2 separate regions of the Homo sapiens genome follow, and region 1 is linked to region 2. A link means that fine-mapping ties the variant in region 2 to the expression of a gene that starts in the linked region. Tissue or cell type: whole blood. Region 2 holds a variant in brackets; the other region holds the start of a gene. All regions are shown on one strand. Distances are from middle to middle.

Region 1 (10,810 bases), 240 kb after region 2:
ATAAGTTTATGGACCGTGGGACAGTGTCATGACTCATCACATTATGAGCCTCTTAAAGGCAGAACTGTCATTGACACCACTTTCTGCTGTGGTCATGGGCATCCTGCCACTTATACAAATCTTGCAAATGCTTGGGAGTTTCCTGATGGTGCTTTAACAGATGTTTGTTAAATAGGTGGCTGTTCTGAATGTAGAGCAGTATGAAAGCCCCAAGAGAATTCCAATATAATTTAAAAAATCAACTATGTTAAAATGAGTATTCAAACAACAGCAGTCATAATGCTGCCTTTACTTTCACAATCCTGATAAAAACTGTCATAAAATTATGCTGAATTAGCTATTTATCAAGGTTTTTTAAAGAACTGTCTTGAAGAGTTTGCGTCTTTTTTTTTTTTTTAGCTGAAGAGGATACCAGTTTCTTCTGTGTAGAGTTAGAGCTCTCTGTTTGTATGTATGTGAACTGAGTCCGTTTCTGAAGTGTGAAGACTGCATCGCTGTGGATCACACTGGTGTAGCCCTCCTGAGCATGCAGCCTTTTTGGAGGAATGTGTGTTAGTCAGCTTTTGCTGCATAACAAACCACCTGATACTAGTGGCTCAAAAAAACAAACATTTCTTTCTGTACCTCACAGTTCTGTAGGGCACCGGAGTGGTTCTGACTTGAGCAAGCCTGGCTGGACTTTGCAGTCAGCTGGCAGCTGGCTGGCTGTGTGGTTTACGATGGCCTGACCCACCCATCAGGTGCTCAGCGGGCTGACCAGTGGCAGGGACTCAGCAGTGATGGTGCATCCCCACTCCATGTGGCCTTCTCATTTGTAGTAGGCAAGCCAGGGCGGGCATTTCGAAGTTGCAAGAGAGGGTGAGCCCCCATGCACCAGCACTTTCCAGGGCCCAGCATTATGTTTGCTGTTGTCCTACTGGCCAAGCCCAGAGTCAGTGCAGGAAGGGACTCCCTAGGGTAAGGAAGGAATAGGGGGACTTTACAGCAGCCATCTGCCCAGACACATGATTCGCCTGTGTTCTTCAGTCAGTGACCCTGAATCCTGTGCTAACCTCTGGCTGGGGACATGAGACCATATCACGGAGAAAATTAAACAGGCTGGCGCAGCTACAGAGTTTTCCAAAGGAGTTTACAAACCCTGGTTTTCCTGAAATACTTAACGACCATTTGAAATTCCTTTCAACATTTTATTTTTTGAAGAAGCTTCATGCTATAAAAACAGGGAGCCTTTAATCCGCACTCAGTAAATATCCCAAATTGCCCTTCAGCAAGTACCATACTGCTGCTAGACCTGCTGTGAGCATAATGGCCCCGGCCGTTTATGAGACTCTTTGTGTGCCTGTGCTAGATACATCTCACTTCCTTCCAACACCAACCCTTGATGTCAGCAACATTATCCCCATTTTACAGGCGAGGAAGCCAAGTCACAGAGGTGAGCTCAATTGCTCGAGGTCAGACAGCTAGTAGGTCGTGGGGTACACTTTGAACCCAGGTCTTTCTGAGTCCACAGCTACAATCCAAAGAATTCCTAACGTGGGCCAGGCACAGTGGTTCACACCTATTATCCCAGTACTTCGGGAGGCCAAGGTGGATGGATGCCTGAGGTCAGGAGTTTGAGACCAGCCTGGCCAACATGGCGAAACCCCGTCTCTACTAAAAATACAAAAATCAGCTGGTCGTGGTGGCACACACCTATAATCCCAGCTGCTCAGGAGGCTGAGGCAGGAGAATCCTTGAACACAGGAGGCGGACGTTGCAGTGAGCCGAGATTGCACTACTGTGACAGAGACTTTGTCTCAAAATAAATAAATAAAATACAGAGAATTCTTAACGAGTTGAAGAGTTTTTTCTTCAATGTTCATTTTTTGATGGCTTTTTTTTTTCTTTGAGATAGAGTCTCACTCTGTCATCCAGGCTGGAGTGGTGGCGTGATCTCAGCTCACTGCAACCCCCGCCTCCCAGGTTCAACTGATTCTCATGCCTCAGCCTCCCAAGTAGCTGGGACTACAGGTATGTGTGACCGTGCCCGGCTAAGTTTTTTGTAGAGACGGGGTTTCGCTACATTAGCCAGGCTGGTCTCAAACTCCTGACCTCAAGTGATCCTCCTGCCTCAACCTTAAATAGTTGGATCAAATAACCAGGTTCAATTTGATGATAAATAGCTCAGAATAGAAACTTCACTGCTATTTCCAGATGTCATTTTAAAATATTTTAGAATACCTGATTTCTCCATGACCTATCCATGCTTTTCTAAGGTTCCAAACTAAAATGCAGAATCTTGAGTTATTCCAGAACATAGATTTAAAATTTGATCAGAAAATAACCTTCATTTAAGAAATGAGGGGTCAGGCATGGTGGCTCACGCCTGTAATCCCAGCACTTTGGGAGGCCGAGTTGGGTGGATTGCTTGAGCCCAGCCTATTTATTTACTATCCTATTATGAGCTTGAGACCAGCCAGGGCAACATAGCAAAACTCCATCTCTACAAAAAATATAAAAATTAGCCAGGTGTGGTGGTGCACACCTATAGTCCCAGCTACTTGGGAGGCTAAGGTGGGAGGATCGCTTGAGCCTGGGAGGTGGAGGTTGCAGTGAACCAAGATTGTGTCACTGCACTCCAGGCTGGGCGACAGAGTGAGACATCTTCTCAATTAAAAAAAAAAAAAGGTTGGGGGGGTATTGCGTCCCTCTTGTGTGGCACCCTCCTTCCTCTCCCCGCTGTAGCCATAGCACATTGCACATAAACTGCGTCTTCATACTTACCCAAGTATTGTATCTGCCTGGGTGAGTCTGTTCCTGTCACTAAAATGTGAACTCCCTGGACATAGAGACCTTGTCTTTCATCTCTGTATCTGTCCCCAGTACCTGGCATAGTAACTGGAACATGCCTTTTTTTTTTTTTTTTTTTTTTTTTTTTTTTTTTGAGACGGAGTCTTGCTTTGTTGCCCAGGCTGGTGTGATCTTGGCAGTGGCATGATCTTGGCTCACTGCAGCCTCTGCCTCCCAAGTTCAAGTGGATTCTCCTGCCTCAGTCTCCTGAGTAGCTGGGACTACAGGCGTGCGCCACCATGCCTGGCTAATTTTTTTTGTATTTTTAGTAGAGACAGGGTTTCAGCATGTTGGTCAGGCTGGTCTTGAACTCCTGACCTCGTGATCCACCCACCTCGGCCTCCCACAGTGCTGGGATTACAGGCGTGAGCCACCACGCCTGGCCACCAATTTTTATTATATGATTTTATAACTAAAATTTCATGTCTAGCAATGAAATTCTTCTTCTCTCTTTTTTGTTTATTTATCTTCCTTTTAGTCTTTCTTTCTCCTCGGATCTTTCCCCTTCTATCTGTCTCAGTTCCTTCATTTTCCTTAGCTCTCCATTTCTCCCAGCATCTGCTACTAGTCTAGTCTCCTGGCTCTTAACCTTTTTGAGACACAGACTCCTTTAATAAAGTGATGAAGAAAGTTATCTCCCCAGAAGAATACACACAGAGAACACAGAATATTTTGCATATTATTTCAAAGGTAAAGAATGCCAAGAAGCCAGGGGCAGTAGTTCATGCCTGTGATCCCAGTGCTTTGGGAGGCTGAGGTGGAAGAATCACTTGAGCCCAGGAGTTCGAGGCTGGCCTGGGCAACATGGTGAGACCTCCTCTCTACAAAAAAATTTTAAAATTAGCCAGGTGTGCTGGCACGTGCCTGTAGTCCCAGCTACTCAGGAGGCTGAGGTGGGTGGATTGCTTGAGCTCAGGAGGTGAAGGCTGCAGTGAGCCATGATTGTGCCACTGCACTTCAGCCTGGGTGACAGAATGAGACCCTAGCTCTAAAAAACAAAGGATGCCAAGTATCTAAACTTTGAGCTCCTTGAGGACAAAAACTAGGCGTTTTTCATCCTATATGCCCAGTATTTAGTTGATGTTTCTTGAGTGTATATAAGTGTGCACATGCCCAGAAACATGTAAATATTAGTACATGTTGTAGAAAAGCTGTTGTCAGGAAGATATTTGTACACTCTGGCTTTCCACTATGATAGTCACCAGGCACATGTGGGTACTGAGCACTGGAAATGTGGATTGTCCAGATTGGAATGTACTAATTGTAAAATACGCACTGGATTGCACAGGCTTGGGGCAGTACAAACAAAAGAATGAAGATATCTCATTAATAGTTTTTATGATTATTACACATTAAAATGATCATATCTTGGATATATTGAGTTAAAATATATTATTAAATTAATTTTACCTCTTTATTGTTACTTTTCTAAAAGCAGCTACTAGAAAATTTTAAATTATACATGTAACTGCTCATAGAAGGTTGGTATCTGGGTTCATTCATTAGTGGACATTCATAAACATAGTAATTTTCTTTAATTTCATGGATTCGTTGAACTAAAGATCCCATAGGTCACCGCCTTCCCTGTCCCTCCTCTACCACCAAAAATTAATGAGAACAAATGGGAAGAATTTACTCTGCTTTTCAAGGTACTCTGATACAGATTTTTATCTACTGTCATAAGTATACCTAGAACAAAAGCACTGTTGACTCAAGTAGTTTCACTAATGAAAAGGAAGCAGCAGAATGACTAATGTAAATTGGAGGAGACTCTTTTATTTGGAATGCTTTGGTTCTTCCACTGTGGAACAGGTGTGGCTGCTGTTGAAACAGCAGAGTCATACTAGGCATATCTGACATGTGAGGAACCGGAGCATTGCTCAGGGGCCCCTGCCTTCCAATGAATGGATGTAGGATCCATCATACATCAGATTGCTCCTTTCCAATACAAACTCTGATGCAGAAATGCACTTGGTGTATTTGCTTTTTCTTACTTTCTGGTTTAGGGCAGAAATAATATTTTGGCTTAGAGACTTTTGTCCTGAACTATGACATAATAGGATGAGAATATCGTGTCAAAAATAGCCTTACAAGGTCCTTTTTGGCATTAAGACTTCTGGAGTGAGTTTGCAGTGGATTATTGAGAATAATTCTGTTCATTAGCAGCTAGCCATCTTTGATGAGTGCTGACTTCTCTCCTTTCAGCACAGAGCAGGAAATGCCTGCCTCCCATGACTCTGGGTTGGAGTGAAGGGGAATGCATACCAGCCACCCTCTTGCAGAGGTGGGGCAGGTGCTGGCACAGAGCCTCAGGTTAGGCCGAGGGGATGCAATCTCAGATCAGCAGCCAGCAGTGTTTGTAAACAACAGGAGGGAGATTGTGCTGGTGATGTCCAACTCACACCAATGAAGATCAACCGGTTTGTGCTTTGGGCAGCAGGCTGCAGATGGACAGTGCCTCCTGAGGGCATCGCCATGTTTTAGGGATCCATGTTGCAGGATACCTGTCTGCAAGAGAGAGTCAAGGAGGGCTTTTTAAGCCCCTGGGGTTCAGGCCTGGCATCTGGGTGTTAAGTAGAGTGAATCTCCTGAAGTCCAAACTAACATATGACATTTTAAAATGAGGAAAACAAATGGCTCTGAAAAGGTCTATAGGATTATAGGTAAGTGGTTAATACGGAAGATGTTATAAAGGTCTCAGGAGGAGATGGGGTGATCCAGGGTTGGTTGAAGTCGTTGAAATGGAATTACCCTGTCTTTTACCTGTCTGTGGGAAAAAAAAAAAAAGAGGAAAATGACATCTCCCAAAGATGCTTGGAGATTTGATTGATGTTTGTAAAGTGCTTTGATATCTTTCATAGAGTGTTCAATAAGAGCAAAATATGTCATCAGAACTTAGTCTAAAGCAAACTAGTCCCAAACCGTCTTGAGTAGATACTAAGCGGTTTTGTGTCTTTGTTATAAGTTGTACTTATATTTTCGAGAGAAAGTTTTTCATGTTCTGATTTTCTTTTAAGTGTCAGCTGTATGTTTGGGGTCTTTACCTGTTAACTTGAGTTCCAACATGCTTTGTAGATGGTCAGTCACCTACAGAGGACAATTTTTCTAGCCAAGGAGTTAAATCCACCTTAAAATGCTTCTTGCCAAGGACAATGCCTTTGCAAATATTTGAGATGTTTATTCTCAGTTGTGATTTATTACTGAATCTGTGTCTTCATAGCGACTCCTTGGGAGGTGCAGGAGGAGGCAGAGCCAGAAAGCAAGTCCCTGCAATCAGTTCATTATAGAGAAAGAAAAAGCTTTTATTTCAGGATTCTGGTGGATAGACTTACTGATATGTATATTCTGTGTCTATTTAATTTCACGTAGTGCTGCATCTAATCACGCTGTTTAAATAATCGGACAGAATGTCCTTTTGCTTTGCTTTTGCTTGTGAAGAGCACACAGCACTGCCACCTTGTTGCCAAAGTTTGGTCTGATTTGAATGTGCTTAAAAATCAAGTGAATGCCTGTTGGGAAAAAGCTTACTCCTTCTCTTTGTCAGTACTTGCAAAAACAACTTAAAAGAAGTTAGTATTATTGGACTGAATTCAGTAATTAGCATAATCATGATGCTATGTATTGTTCACCAGGGCACGCCCCTTGGCCGCATTTCCCATTAAGAGGACACCGATGTTGTCCTAGTGAATAAATCCCGGCACACATGATGCAAATCAGCGTGTTCCTGCCTGCTGCTTGGCTGCAGTTAATTTTAGCCGGGGTTAGTTCTATGAGTTGTAAAAGTAGAAGTTAGCAAGCTGAAATGTGACTTCTCGGCCTAATGTGGTAGGATATCTATTTTAGACTTCAGATTGTGTTTGTGATCAGGAGAGCAGTCTTCTGAAGAATTGTGGCTCAGTTTTCTTGGAAACTACTTGTAAGTACTGGGTGGAATTTTAAGACTTCTCTTTGTTCTTTTCTCCTTAAATCTTCCTAATGTTACCGTCATAGTAATGTTTATCTCTTGGGAAAACTGGAAGCTTTCAGGTTGGTACGTTAGAGAAAGCTAAGAGAGGTGGCAAAAGGTTTTTCTTTAAATGTCTCCTACTGCAATAAATCTGCCTTATTCAATTTGCCCAAGAAAAAGTTTTCGATTCTTACTTATTTTTGCAAAAGCAATCTGTAGATTATTATTTTATGTTAAAATATTTGATTAATGGATATGGTTTCTGTAAATACAGAAACATTGTATTGTGTCATTGAGCTTTGTTTTCTACTATGGTAACCTAATTCTTGAGAAAAAAATGTTGAAAGTTAATTCCTGTTATACTCTGTGCTACAAGTTTATTTTGTAGAAATAATGGAGTGTCAAATGTAATTTTCTTGAATGTATAGATGGACAGTTTTTTATCCTTTTAAGGGGGATTTTGTGCTTAAAAAATAAACCCATATATGCCTAAAGAGAAGCACTTTAAAAAATTAATTTAGGAAGAAGGTTTTAGAGAATAATTTAAAGCATCCTCTTTTAGACTGAGTTAGTTATCAAAAGTAACCAAAGGCCATGGGATTCTGTAACCTTAACTGCAGTTCATCTAACACATTATTACCAACTTAAATTTGTACTGAAGAAAACAAAAGATTTTGATATTGAATATTTTAAATTAAATTTGAATCATCTTGCTTATTTAGAAGTGTGTTTTCAATGTGGACTGACCTCAAGCCAAACAGTTTGCTTACAGCAGAGAACCAGGCAGGAATTTCTTTATCAATTAGCAAGTAAATGTATCAGCTTTAGGAATATTGTTATTAATAAAACAGTTCTCCTAGGCGATAGGATAGGTGCTCACCAGCTATCTATGCCTGTCATCTCTAGAGCAAGGAAGGAGGCAGGTCCACAGTTAGTATTGTGAAAGCCATTTTCCCATTTTGAAAAGATTTAGTTAAAGACTTCTTTGTTATTATGTATTGTCTGATTTTAAATGCAAATGACATAAAGTGTCAACAATGAAAGGAAATACTTCAGTGTTCCATTTAGTAGGAAAAGAGTGTAAGAAAGGAAAGTAGTACTGAGTTCTTGGGCTATTTTTAGAAAGAAACTTACTTCATACTTAGTTTTTATTGAGCTGAAGAGAAATTTGCTGCCCAGATGAATTATAATGATAACAGAAGCCTCTAATGTCATCTTCAGCAGTAAAAGGGGTTTTGCTCCGGTAATCCTTCATAATATATATTTTTATCCAAAAAATTCTGACTTATTGCTATTACTTCTTACTTCTAATTGTTAATAAGGCACCATCAGAATCTCAGTGGAGCATTTTTAAAGGTACACTGTAGTTGGGTATTAGTTTTCACACCAGTATTCACTTGACCTATTGTAGTTCTTAGTCCTGCAAAAGAGAAAAGCTGATTCGAATTTATCCATTGTTTAATTTCACAGACGTTTCTGTAGGTTTTTCTACTACTAGGAAGCATGTGCTTTATGATGAGTTGCTAAAATGCGCATAAACACTTGAGGAGTGTTCGTTTTAATGATTTACGTGCTGTGAGAGAGTGGCAGCGGTGAGTGAGAGCGGAGAAGGTTTTCATTATATAAGTGTTAGTGCCGGAATTCCTCGTGTTTGCCGGTGCTGCGATTCTCTTCGCTGCTTCTACCCCGTGTGCCTGGTGAAATGATGCTGGCTGTGACTGGTTATGACCTTGGGCGACAAATCATGATGAGCTCTATGCAGAGTCACACACTGGGGGTCCAGGTGCGGAGAAACAGGGCAGCTTTGTGGCCGCAGGAGGAGTCCAGGAGCCGAGCCCGCCTGCCCTTGCCCTGCTGTTCCCACGCCGCAGGTGACCGCACGTCTCCCCTGCAGTCCTGTTGGAGCCACTCTGTCCAGCTGCCCGTGCTCTCATCCTACTCCTCCACGTCTTAAAATAGTTACAGACCCAGAGGCTCTGACAGAATCGCTGCCGGTTGCAGATTTATTTCACTGTTACTTTCTGCCTAGAGGGATAGCCTTCTGCTCAGAAGCTTTGAGGGGTTTCTCAGGGACGCAGAGAGGAACCTTTTCTCTGGGACCTCTTCCCTCACATGAGGTTTTAATGGGTCTCTTGCCTGCATGGCTAAATGGGAACTGCGCTATGTAACAGGTTGCCTTTCGGCTTGGAGCCCGGATGCTCAGTGATCACATCCCTAGAATGTTCTCTCTCTAAAGGAAATCTTGTCGGAAGAGGCTGTGTTATGTGAGTTCCAGCTGTTCATCTAAAGTGGAAGGAGCAGTGAGCAGGAGGGATGCCTTCAGCTTCCGTCCGTCTTAAAAACAAGTGTAACATAATGGGATATGGCCCTCAGGAGGAAGGCTGATTTCTCGGGCATACGGGGTACTGCTGTCATTATTTAGCATGTATTAAGCACCCCACAGCACATGCGGTGCACAAGGAAAGCATAGTTCCAACCCACATGCTACAACAAGGCAGGACACAGAAACTGGGCCCCCTGACATTCAGTAACTACACTGGCAGAAAAAAAAATGTGAAAATGAAGAAAAGGGAAACAAGATGAGTGGGGTGGGTTGAGGATACTTCAGCATTCAGCTCCTCTGAGCTTTTGCCAAAGACGATTAGGACAGACAGCTGTGCCACCTGGGCTGTGCCTTCCCTTTCTCCTCCATAGCTGGGAAGTGATGGGGACAAGTGACAAGACTGACCCCAGAAGCCTTGCCCCCCACTCTCAGTCCTCTGTTGCAATCCTCCTACAAAGAGGAGAAGCTTCACAGTTTCACTTGCACCTAAAACTATTATTATTATGTGGAGGGGGTAAACTTGTTATAAAGTGCAATAAATATCAAAGCATCTTTCTCCATAAAATGATATTTAGATAGAAATCTGGAGTTCCAGATTCTCCCTTCCTGAACTGGTTTGCAATTCAACAAGTTACTTAACCCTGCACTGGTTTAGGATATTGAGTCAACTGTAATATTAGTTAGGGAAATGCCTTCAGCTTCTCAGAGGAAAGGCATTATGAAGGTCTACTGAGCATTATTGCAGCTTGTAAAGGAGTTAGAAGCACATGAATCAGAAGAAGGGCTGATAGGAAGGCTTGGGTACTGGGGAGTAATAACATGAGCGGCCTGCGTGGTTCTGTGAGTCTGTGAGTCCCTCCCCCCGTGCCCAACCTCAGCCAGTCTCTAAGGTTCTGGGTCTAGTTCATGGCTCCACAACAAAGAGACTTGGCTCCACAAAGAACCTCAAAAAAAAAAAAAAAACCAATTGAGGGTTGGAAAATGATACCTATGATAAGAGGGTAGGGAACTTCTATTATTTAGCCTGGAAGAGGAAACAAATGACCGGGAGACTCTTGAATTGTTCTTCAAGTATATGTGTGTCTCAGTGGCAAAGAATGGTGACCCACTGGTATCTATTTCCATCTAGAATAAAAGGGTCAGGTCCAGCAAGGGTTGGGCTGGAACAGAGGTGCCGACAGTGGGGACCCTGTTTCTTCAGCGTCAGCACCGCCTGGAAACATGTGAGAAATGCAGATTCTCAGGCCCCACCCAGGCCCTGCTGAATCAGAAAACATGGGGTAGGGCCAGCAGCCTGTGTTTAAAAAATCTCCCAAGTGATTCTGGTGCACGTTGACATTTGAGGTCTGCTGGATGAGATGCAAAGATGGAGGGTATTATAAAATGGGCAATCTGGATGCCAAAAAATGTAACCCTTTTTCCTGAAGTCATCTAAACATGGGATTATATTTGTTTGCAGTGTTTTCAATGTACTCTCTAAAGTCAGGAGATAAATGACCTCTCAAAGTCCCTTCCAGCCCTGACTTTGCTCTGGATTTCCTTTTGTCACTTAGAGAAGATTAATAATTAACCAGGAAAATTTTGCAATTACTTTTCTGAGCTAAGACAGTGTTCCTCTCAAATGAGGCTCACCTGAGATAATGTGAGAATAATATTGTGTTAGCATATGGATCTACTGTATTTTATCAGTGTTACCAGACTCTCCTCCCCAT
Region 2 (10,763 bases):
CCTTCTATTGTTTCCTTTTGAACACTGTGATCTTCTGGCCTGGCTGACTCTCCTCTTGATGCCCAGAGCTGAGACTGTCCTTGAGCATTCAGACGAGCATGTCTAATTCCACAGCAGGCCGGGCTGCCCTGTCCCATGGCCATCAACACTGCCTGGAGGGGTGACAGTCCACATCTGGGCACGGATTGCTGCTCTCACCTAGTTTTCCCAAACCCAAGATTATGTCCATGAGCCAGTGACATAGTGTTACTTTTATGGTCACTGGTACTTGATTGACATACTGAACAGAAAGTTTTAATACAAAGAAGAAATACATGTCAGGTTAAACATATATGGTAATCACTGTGTTAATTAAATGAATTAATTTAAGTAGATAACAGTAGGTGCTTCAGAGAAAGAATTTTGACACAACCGAAAGGTCCATTCCAACATAAGAATGTTACTCTCTGGAAATTACTATGTTCCAATGTTGGCTGGCTATACACCATCTCCAAAGGGACCAAGATCATAGCTAAGAGTTTTTGTAACCTTGCTGTGTGTTGTGGCCTCAGGCTAGACCACAAGATTTACCACTGGATACAGTGGAGAGATCAGACTTGCATTACCTTAATCTAGGGATTAATCTTAACTCTAATGATCAGATAGCCAAGTAGCCTCCCTCCTCACTATGGTATAATATGAACACCATGTTATCATCTATAGCACATCCCTAACAAAAAGATTGAGCTGGGTGCGGTAGCTCATGCCTGTAATCCCAGCTCTTTGAGAGGCTGAGGGGGGAGGACTGCTTCAGGCCAGGAGTTCAAGATCAGCTGGCCAATATGGGGAAACCCCATATCTACTCAAAATACAAAAATTAGCCTGGCGTGGTGGCACAAGCCTATAATCCCAGCTACTCAAGAGACTGAGGCAGGAGAATTGCTTGAACCTGGGAGGTGGAGGTTTCAGTGAGCCGAGATCATGCCACTGCACTGCAGCCTGGTGACAGAGTGAGACTCTGTCCCAGGGGAAATATGTTTAGGGATACAGATGTAACTTTCAGTTTACAGGAAAATACAGGAGACAAAGGAATAAGGTAAATGCCACCAGAAGCAAGCAACCAGACAAACTCCAAATAGGGAGATATACTTGGGGAAAACGGATCTGGTCCTTTCAACAAATCAGTGCCAAGAAAGAGATTAAAATAGATTTAAGATCACACCTGTAATCCCAGCACTTTGGGAGGCTGAGGTGGGCAGATCACAAGGTCAGGAGATCGAGACCATCCTGGCTAACACAGTGAAACCCCATCTCTACTAAAAATACAAAAACAAAATTAGCTGGGCGTGGTGGTAGGTGCCTGTAGTCCCAGCTACTCGGGAGGCTGAGGCGGGAGAATAGCATGAACCCGGGAGGCAAAGCTTGCAGTGAGCTAAGATCGTGCCAGCCTGGGCGACAGAGCAAGACTCCGTCTCAAAAAAAAAAAAAAAAAAGATTTAACAGGCATAACAAATGGTCTTGGGTCAAATCCTATTTGAGACAAGCTAAATATCAAATTGGGATATTTTTGAGGCAGGGAACTTGAATGTAGAATTACTAATTTTGCTAAGTATGATAATAGTATTTTGGAGATTGTTTTAATGTAAGAAAATGTTTTTCTAAGGAGAATACTGAAAATTACACACACAGAGCTAGAAATATTTGGAGGGGCTGAGCAAGAGTACACATTTGTCCCCATTTTAGACAACTTCATCCAAAATTCCTGGTATCTGGTTTAATTAATCAACAAATATCAAGTAAGCCTTGACTGTGGACTACGCTCTATTAGATATTGTTGGGGGTATGATGGAGAATATACTGGTATAGCTAAGAAAATGAGGTTCACTTAATAATAGAAATGATATTCTAAACCATACAGCATACACTGGAAATGCCACTGGCTTTCCAACACAGGGAGCCCAGTGGGGGCCATGTGTTCTATGAAGGCTTCAGGAGGAGCAGTGGCGGGGGTGTGTGAGCAGAAATCTGAAGGCTGCACATAATGTGGACAGCTCTCTGTGGCCCCCCGTGTGTGTGCCTGCACACGTGTGTCCCACACTCACACGTGTTGAGGGAAGAGAGAGATCCTCTCACATTGTTTTATACTCAGTACCTGTTTTAAAAAAAAAACAACAAGGAAGTAAAACCAAAGACAGGCAGCCTGGCGCCAGGCCTGAAACTAGGCCTGGGCCTGCCTGGCCTAAACCCAGTAGTTAAAAATCAACTCATAATTTAGAAACCGATGTTATTCATAGATTCCAGACATTGTATAGAAGAACGCTGTGAAACTCCCTGCCCTGTTCTGTTTCTCTCTGACCACCAGTGCATGCAGCCCCTGTCACGTACCCCTTGCTTGCTCAAATCAATCATGACCCTTTCACGTGAAATCTTTAGTGTTGTGAGCCTTTAAAAGGGACAGAAATTGTGCACTCGGGGAGCTTGGATTTTAAGGCAGTAGCTTGCCGATGCTCCCAGCTGAATAAAGCCTTTGCTTCTACATCTCGGTGTCTGAGAGGTTTTGTCTGCGGCTCATCCTGCTGCAGTGTGATACAGAGAGAAATCGTTCTTGCAACTTCCACTTCTTGGATTAATTGGCAGATTTTGCACATAGATTTTTCTTGCTATACATTTGGAATTAAAATTTCTTTGCCTTAGAGTGATCATTTGTGGTTACTTCCTTAGGATTATTATGTTATATAAATACTTGTTCTTTTCTGTGTTTGAAGCTGTTATTATCTCCCACCTTGGCTACATGTACACATGTGAAGGCTTAATCTTTTCTGAATCTGTGTCTGATCAGTAAGAAGCTTCCTGTAGAAGGTGTTTCATGCTGGTATTTCCTTTTTTTTTTTCCTTTAACTTTGTTTTGTTTTTGCTTTAGACATGAGGGCTCACTCTGCCGCTCCTGGCTGGAGTGCAGCAGCACAATCATAGGTCACTGAAACTTTCAACTCCTGGGCTCAAGTGAACCTCCTGTTTCAGCCTTCCATGTGGCTGGAATTACAGGCATGAGCCACCCCCCCGGCTCATACTGGCATTTTTTCAAACTTTGAAACTGAATTCATATCTAAACACATTTTTCTGAAATTAGTATAATCATTGTGAAAATAAATAAAACTTAAAAGCTGTTGGAAACCCCCAAACGCTTTAAGCTTTGAGAGAGATGTGGCTGTGATCTGAGTTATATGGCATGTTGTTGTCACGTCTGTTTCTTAGATTATAGCTTAACTCTCTTTCTCATTGTCCTTGTTCTGTCATTAACTAGGAAAGACCAGACCTCCCTCTTCCAAACACTGATCATTGTGATAGATTAACTGCCTCCTTTGTTATCCTGTACCTAACTCAGGCCAGATGGTGTCCCAAACGGGGACCCCATGACAGTTCCATCTTCAGTGTAGAATGTTAAATATACCTTTTCCAAAAGAAAAGAACCACCTTGACTAATGAGAACATTGTGACTATGCATTAAGCCTTATATAGAAAGAGGCTAAAATTCTGTTAAACTTCCCTAAGCTTTGTCTATAAAAGTGATCCCAAATTTCTAACTTTGGAACGCTGACTTCCATTCTTTGGAATCTGTGGTTCCTGGGAGGGTTGTCCTCAAACTTTGCACTTGAATAAACTGCTTAAACTAGATTCTGACCCTTTTGATTATTTTAGATTGACATCATTTACCTAGCAAACTAAGAGTTAAAGTTAAGTGGTGTGTTAAAGTCAATAGTATTCTCAATAAAAAGGAGAGGAATAGTGGCTTGCCCTTTGAATCCACAATCCCATCAATAATTTAAGGCAAAGAATCCTTGATTTTCATCACAATGTATTCCTGCAAATCCCATCCTGAAGTACTGATAAAGCAGGTTCAATTTTCCCAAAGGAACAAAGTTACACTGAGTTGTGTGGTTTAAAAACTGTGAAAGCTCCAGTAAAATTATCCAAAATATAGAAATTTAGAGCAGGGGAGAGCTTCAAAGGTCATGCATGAATCATAACTCCTATAAACCAAAACTAAAATTCTAAGGCCTCCCAACCATCTGAATGGTCCCCTCCTTTTGGCCAGGGCAGCCCAAAATTAATCTGAAAAACCTATTCAGGCCATGATGGAAGTGGGGCTCAGACATGCCTCACTATACCCTCCTCCTTTTTGGAATTCAGGAAAAGCCAACCAGAATTAACATCAACACTGATCAGAAGTCTGATAAGGAACATTTGCAATCTCTTCTCTCTGAAGCCTGCTACTTGGAGGCTTCATCTGCATGATAAAACCTTGATCTCCACAACCCCTCATTGTCAACCAGACACTCCTTTCTATTGATAATAACTATTTCAACCAATTGCTAATCAGAAAATTTTAAAATCTACCTATGACTTGGAAACCCCCTCCAACCCCCCTGCTTTGAGTTGTCCTGCCCTTCCAGATAGAACCATTGTAGACCGGGCGCGGTGGCTCACGACTGTAATTCCAGCACTTTGGGAGGCCAAGGTGGGCAGATCACGAGGTCAGGAGATTGAGACCATCCTGGCTAACACGGTGAAACCCCATCTCTACTAAAAATACAAAAAATTAGCTGGGCATGCTGGCAGGCGCCTGTAGTCCCAGCTACTACGGAGGCTGAGGCAGGAGAATGGCGTGAACCCGGGAGGCGGAGCTTGCAGTGAGCCGAGATGGAGCCACTGCACTCCAGCCTGGGTGACAGAGCGAGACTTCATCTCAAAAAAAAAAAAAAAAAAAAAAGAACCACTGTAAACCTTACATGTATTTGATTGATGTCTCCTGTCTCCCTAATGTATAAAACTAGGCTGTGCCCTGACCACCTTAGGCACATGTCCTCAGGATCTCCTGAGGGCTGTGTCACAGGTCATGATCACTCATATTTGGCTCAGAATACATCTCCTCAAATATTTTGCAGAGTTTGACTCTTTTCGTCGATACTTCTTATTACTGACTGGGAAACTGAAACCCTAGAGGGACCTATCGAGTGAGGAATAATAATCAACCCCAGCATGCTTCCCATCTAGAGCACGGGATATTATACAATAATGTTTTCAAAGCTCCGAGGGAAAATGATTTTGAACCAGAATTCCACACCCAGCCAATCCATTATTTAAATGTGAAGGCAAAATAAATTACAATTTCAGAAAAGCAAGGGTTCAAGAAGGTTACCACACTCAAATATTTCCTGAAAGAATTACTTGAAGACATGCTCTTCTGAAATAATGGAAGAAATGAAGCAGGAAAAGAGGAATGCTTAAGATAAAAAACAGTGATGAACAAATAAATGAAATTGTTTGTCATGTGGTTATGGACAAAATGTGTGGTGAATACATGGTTCTTAGGGAAAGGAACACATAATATAAAAATTAATCATGTAGAACTAAAATTCTGGATGATTTAAAGAAAATGTGGAAAGTGATAAAAGTGAAATGAAGGTGAGGGGAAGTGAGGGTCCTAAAGAAATTATTTTGTGTAGAAAGTGGCAGCCACAAACACTAATTCTCAACATTGATTTAAAAAGTTGAATGTTTATTAATAAATTAATAGAAGCGGACATGTAACTTTCAAGCCATTAAAGGCAAAGAAGGAATGGACAAACTACAAACTCGGCCAAGGCTGAAAAAGTGGGGGAAAAGGTGAAGGGAAAAAGGTGAAGGAACAAGAGAATGTTATACAGAAAGCACAAACTAAATGGCATTAATAAGACGAAATACATCAGTGGTAACAATATGTGAAGGTGTTTCATGCTTAGATTTTTTTTTTTTTAAATGGAATCTTGTTCTGTTGCCTAGGCTGGAGTGCAGTGACGCAATCTCGGCTCATTGCAAGCTCTGCCTCCCGGGTTCAAGTGATTCTCCTGCCTCAGCCTCTCAAGTAGATGGGAGTATAGGCATGGACCTGGCTAATTTTTTGTATTTTTAGTAGAGATGGGGTTTCACTGTGTTAGCCAGGATGGTCTCGATCTCCTGACCTTGCGATCCATCCACCTTGGCCTCCCAAAGTGCTGGGATTACAGGCGTGAGCCACTACGCCCAGCCACTTAGATTTTTTTTTAAGAGACTGCGTCTTGCTCTGTCGCCCAGGCTGGAGTGCAGTGGAGCAATCATGGCTCACTGCAGCCTCCAACTACTGGGTTCAAGTGATCCTCCCATTTCAGCCTCCTGAGTAACTGAGACTGTAGGCACACATCACTAAAATTGTTAAAATTTTAATTTTTTAAATTTTTTGTAGAGACAGGGTCTTGCTGTAGAGAGCAGGCTGGTCTCAAACTCCTGGCCTCAAGCAATCCTCCTGATTTGACCTCCCAAAGTGCTAGGATTATGGGTGTGAGCCACTCCACCCAGCCTAGATTGCAAACTGCTTGCAAGAGCCATGCCTAAAAGTACTCCAGAAAGGGATTTGGATTTATAACTGGGCAGAGAGAAAAATTGCTTTAAGCTAAAATTCAGGAAGGATTGGGCAGAGGCAGCAATTTTGGAGGGCAAGAAGAACCTGAGCAGACTCCCCTCGGAGTCTTAGAGAAGGAATGATGGTGGGTGGGGGTGAAGCCCACCCAGGTGCCAGGAGACAGGGAAACAGCAGGTGGAGCCTAGGGGATAGTGTTGGTATGGATCCGATTAGACGAGGTGACATCAAAAACCATTAATCAGAGAATGTTCTGTACACTAGTTTACTAGGAAAAGATAATGGGTATTAATGAATCCACTTCTGGTAGCAAAGGGCTTTGTTTCTATTGTGAGTTATTTTGGTATGCATGACCTTAAAGGAAGTCACAGCTCACAGTGGGCTCCAGTTTCACCATCTGAAAGCCTTATCATGCTGGGAATAAACCATGAATAACACCTGCTTCGGTAGGCCAGGCAACTTGGAATCTGTGTTATTGTTAAGTGTGCAGTGCCAGCTATCCTGCCAGTGTAATCCCCAAACCCTTGTTGAGATTTGCCTGGCCCATTGCTAACAAGCATAACACGGCCCCAGTTTGCAGCTCAGACAAAACCACCAAGGAGGCCAGTGCAGGGTGGGAGATCCAGGCTCTGCCCACACAGATAGCTCGACACCGAGAC[T/C]TCCTTAATTCCAGGTGAATCCCCCCTCCCCCACCACCGAGGCCTGCTGCTTCTAGGAGGTGTTCCTCCACCAAGTAGCAACAGCTTTTTGTGCACTCTGGCCACATGTGAGCTCAAGCCTGGACCTATGATCCCTCCCTGAATGTCTGGGAAAGCCAAGGCAGGGGTCTGAGGAGGCTCCACTTTCTTTAAAAGCAGCTCACTCTCATGGCAACCACAAATGAGCACATTTACCAGAGTTTCTCCCATGAGGAGATGTTCCATTTCCACAAAGACAACGCATTCGGGGTTCGTAGAACAAGCACATGCATTTGGATTCTGTCTGTGTGATAGCCAGATGTCAGGTCTAAGGTGTAATTTAGTCTTATGTCTTTTAAATTCCTAATGGTAACTATGTAGCCACATCTTCAAAGCAGGGGTAAAAATCAGAACCGAGCCTGTTACTGACACTATCAGAAAGAGCCACAGGAAGATTCGGTCAAGAACTTGAGCTACAAATTTCCAGTCTTGTACTACCTGCAAAAGAGAAAAAGATGCCTTTCACTCAAGACACTGAGCAACTGTTCTGTATTCATCTCAAGGGATTAAAAAAGAGTAACATTCAGATTTATAGCATTTACTTAAGTTTTCAAAATGCATCTAATGTCCCAACCACACTACAGGCTCAGGTTCTTTCAGGGACTTCGCTAATTGTGCCCAAAAGAAGCAGCTTGGAACACTCTCATCAGCACTGAAGAAGGAAAATAGAAACAATAGAATTCTGTATGCATATGTCAACATTCCTGATCAGAATAGGAAAAGTCTGATTTTTACATGAATAAAGAGCCACTATAGGCCAGGTGCGGTGGCTCACGCCTGTAATCCCAGCACTTTGGGAGGCCTGGGGGTGGGGGGATCACCTGAGGTCAGGAGTTCGAGACGAGCTGGCCAACATGGTGAAACTCCCTCTCTACTAAAAATACAAAAATTAGCTGGGCATGGTGGCGGGCACCTGTAATCTCAGCTACTTGGGAGGCTGAGGCAGGAGAATTGCTTGAACCCAGGAGACAGAGCATATCTTAGGAAGCCAGTATATCTTACTAGGGTGCTTCCTGATACACGTATGAAAAGAATCACAAGTTTATAATTTAAGAGTTTTTGTGGCCAAATGTCACAGGCTTTCTTTTCTTCCACTCCACCTGTGCTGCAGCTCCAGAAGGAAGGGTGCTGCCAAGGAGAAGAACCGACCAGGACAAGACAGGAATTCATGAAGGAGACAAGAAACTGAGTCCCCTTTATTAGGAAGGGGAGGTGCAGAGAGTGGGCAACAGGTCCATAAACACAAAGTCAAGGCACGACTGGCTGGGGAAGTCTGAAAGGAAGGGGAGTCCTCATCCCTCTAGAGTAAATAAATGTCCTCCGTCTTGGGGAAAAAAAAGAAATCTTTGTATTAGGTTTTTGTTTTGTTTTGTTTTGTTTTGCTTTTTTGAGACATAGTCTCACTCTGCCACCCAGGCTGCAGTGGTGCAATCTTGGCTCACTGCAACCTCCACCTCCTGGGTTTAAGTGGTTCTCCTGCCTCAGCCTCCCGAGTAACTGGGATTACAGGCACTCGTCACCATGCCCAGCTAATTTTTGTATTTTTAGTAGAGACAGGGTTTCAACGTGTTAGCCAGGCTGGTCTCGAGCTGCTGACCTCAGGTGATCCACCCGCCTCGGCCTCCCAAAGTTCTAGGATTACAGGCGTGAGCCACCACACCCGGCCTGTATTAGTGTTTTTTTGTTTGTTTGTTTGTTTTTTGAGACGGAGTCTTGCTCTGTCGCCCAGGCTGGAGTGCAGTGGCATGATCTTGGCTCACTGCAAGCTCCGTCTCCCGGGTTCACACCATTCTCCTGCCTCAGCCTCCCGAGTAGCTGGGACTACAGGCGCCGGCCACCACGCCCGGCTAATTTTTTGTATTTTTTGTAGAGACAGGGTTTCACCCTGTTAGCCAGGATGGTCTCCGTCTCCTGACCTCGTGATCCGCCCGCCTCGGCCTCCCAAAGTGCTGGGATTACAGGCGTGAGCTACCGCGCCTGGCCCTGTATTAGTGTTTTTAAAAGATGTTAAGAAACAAACAAAAAAATTCTCCCAACTTGACAGCTGAATGTTTCTTGTCTAGCAGCAGTCACTTTTCTAGTGCTTTTAAAAACAATTTTAAGTGGATGAAAAACATGACAGATTGTTAAGAGAGAGGACATATGAGGCAGTGTCTGTGAACGCAAGAGAAAATGTAGAAGGATATTTCTAAAAAAAATTCTTGGCCAGGTGCAGTGGCTCAGGCCTGTAATCCCAGCACTTTGGGAGGCCGAGGTGGGCGGATCACGAGGTCAGGAAATCGACACCATCCTGGTTAACACAGTGAAACCCTGTCTCTACTAAAAACACAAAAAATTGGCCAGGCGTGGTGGCGGGTGCCTGTAGTCCCAGCTACTCGGGAGGCTGAGGCTAGAGAATGGCACGAACCCGGAAGGTGGAGCTTGCAGTGAGCTGAGATCGAGCTATTGCACTACAGCCTCGGTGACAGAGCGAGACTCCATCTCAAAAAAAAAAAAAAAAATTCTTTCATCAGTTTGTTTACGGGATCAGGCTCTTGGCACTAATTTTCATCAATTTTAGAGTAAAATATTTGAACCCTATAAATTGAAGTTCTCATATAAATTGAAAATATGTAACTTGCTTTAGGCAACAGATCACTTTTTTTTTTTTTTTTTTTTTTTTGAGATGGAGTCTCGCTCTGTCGCCAGGCTGGAGTGGAGTGCAGTGGTGCACTCTCAGCTCACTGCAACCTCTGCCTCCCAGGTTTAAGTGATTCTCCTGCCTCAGCCTCCCAAGTAGCTGGGACTACAGGCTCCCACCACCACGCCTGGCTAATTTTTGTATTTTTAGTAGAGATCAGGTTTCACCACGTTGGCCAGGATGGTCTTGATCTGTTGACCTCGTGATCCACTCACCTTGGCCTCCCAAAGTGCTGGGATTACAGGCATGAGCCACCGTGCCTGGCCCAACAGATCACTTTTTACGCTTAATATCTGCACGTCAAATAATATTTTCATTCCACTGGGGAAGGACTGTTTAGAAGAATGGGCTGGTCACGGTGGCTCATGCCTGTAATCCCAGCACTTTGGGAGGCTGAGGCAGTGGATCACCCGAGGTCAGGAGTTCGAGACCATTCTGGCCAACATGGCAAAACCCCATCTCTAATGAAAATTCAAGAAAAATTAGCCAGGTGTGGTGGTGTGTACCTGTAGTCCCAGCTACTTGGGAGGCTGAGACAGCAGAATCGCTTGAACCCAGCAGGCGGAGGTTGCAGTAAGCTGAGATCACACCACCGCACTCCAACCTGGGTGACAGCAAGACTCCTCTCAAAAAAAAAAAAAAAAAAAAAGAAGAAGGATGAGGATGATAATTAGAAAGGCGAGAATTCACACTTGTTGACTGCTTATACAACGGAGCTGAGCCCCTGTGTGCTGGGTACACTGTGCATGTTTGTATTTTATGTCATTTAATCCTCACACAAACTTTTCAAGGTAGGATTCAGAAAACTGAGGCTCAGGTTAAGTAACTTGTCTTAAGTCATTCAGATTATGATCTGAACCCAGGACTGTTTTCAGTCTGAAATTCACACTCTTCCCACGCTACTTCTTTTCTTTCTCCTTCTCTTTTATCT

The links. PIP is the estimated chance that this variant, and not a neighbour inherited with it, causes the effect.
Region 1: it holds the start of SLC20A2, and the variant in region 2 is the best candidate, but not a certain one, in a credible set for the expression of SLC20A2 in whole blood (TOPMed, PIP 0.82).

What each region holds. Positions count from the first base shown.
Region 1 is chr8:42,496,966-42,507,775 of GRCh38, reverse strand. It overlaps SLC20A2 (solute carrier family 20 member 2), which reads left to right and starts at 6,545. Exons shown (of 11, transcript NM_001257180.2): 1 at 6,545-6,745. RefSeq lists an enhancer at 4,439-5,638.
Region 2 is chr8:42,733,311-42,744,073 of GRCh38, reverse strand. It overlaps CHRNB3 (cholinergic receptor nicotinic beta 3 subunit), which reads right to left. Exons shown (of 6, transcript NM_000749.5): 6 at 6,667-7,590. The coding sequence ends at 7,456. Among named protein-coding and RNA genes, the nearest start is that of CHRNA6, 30 kb to the left of the region's middle. RefSeq lists enhancers at 1,890-1,959, 2,130-2,319. The variant T/C (reference allele first, on the strand shown) is at 7,075.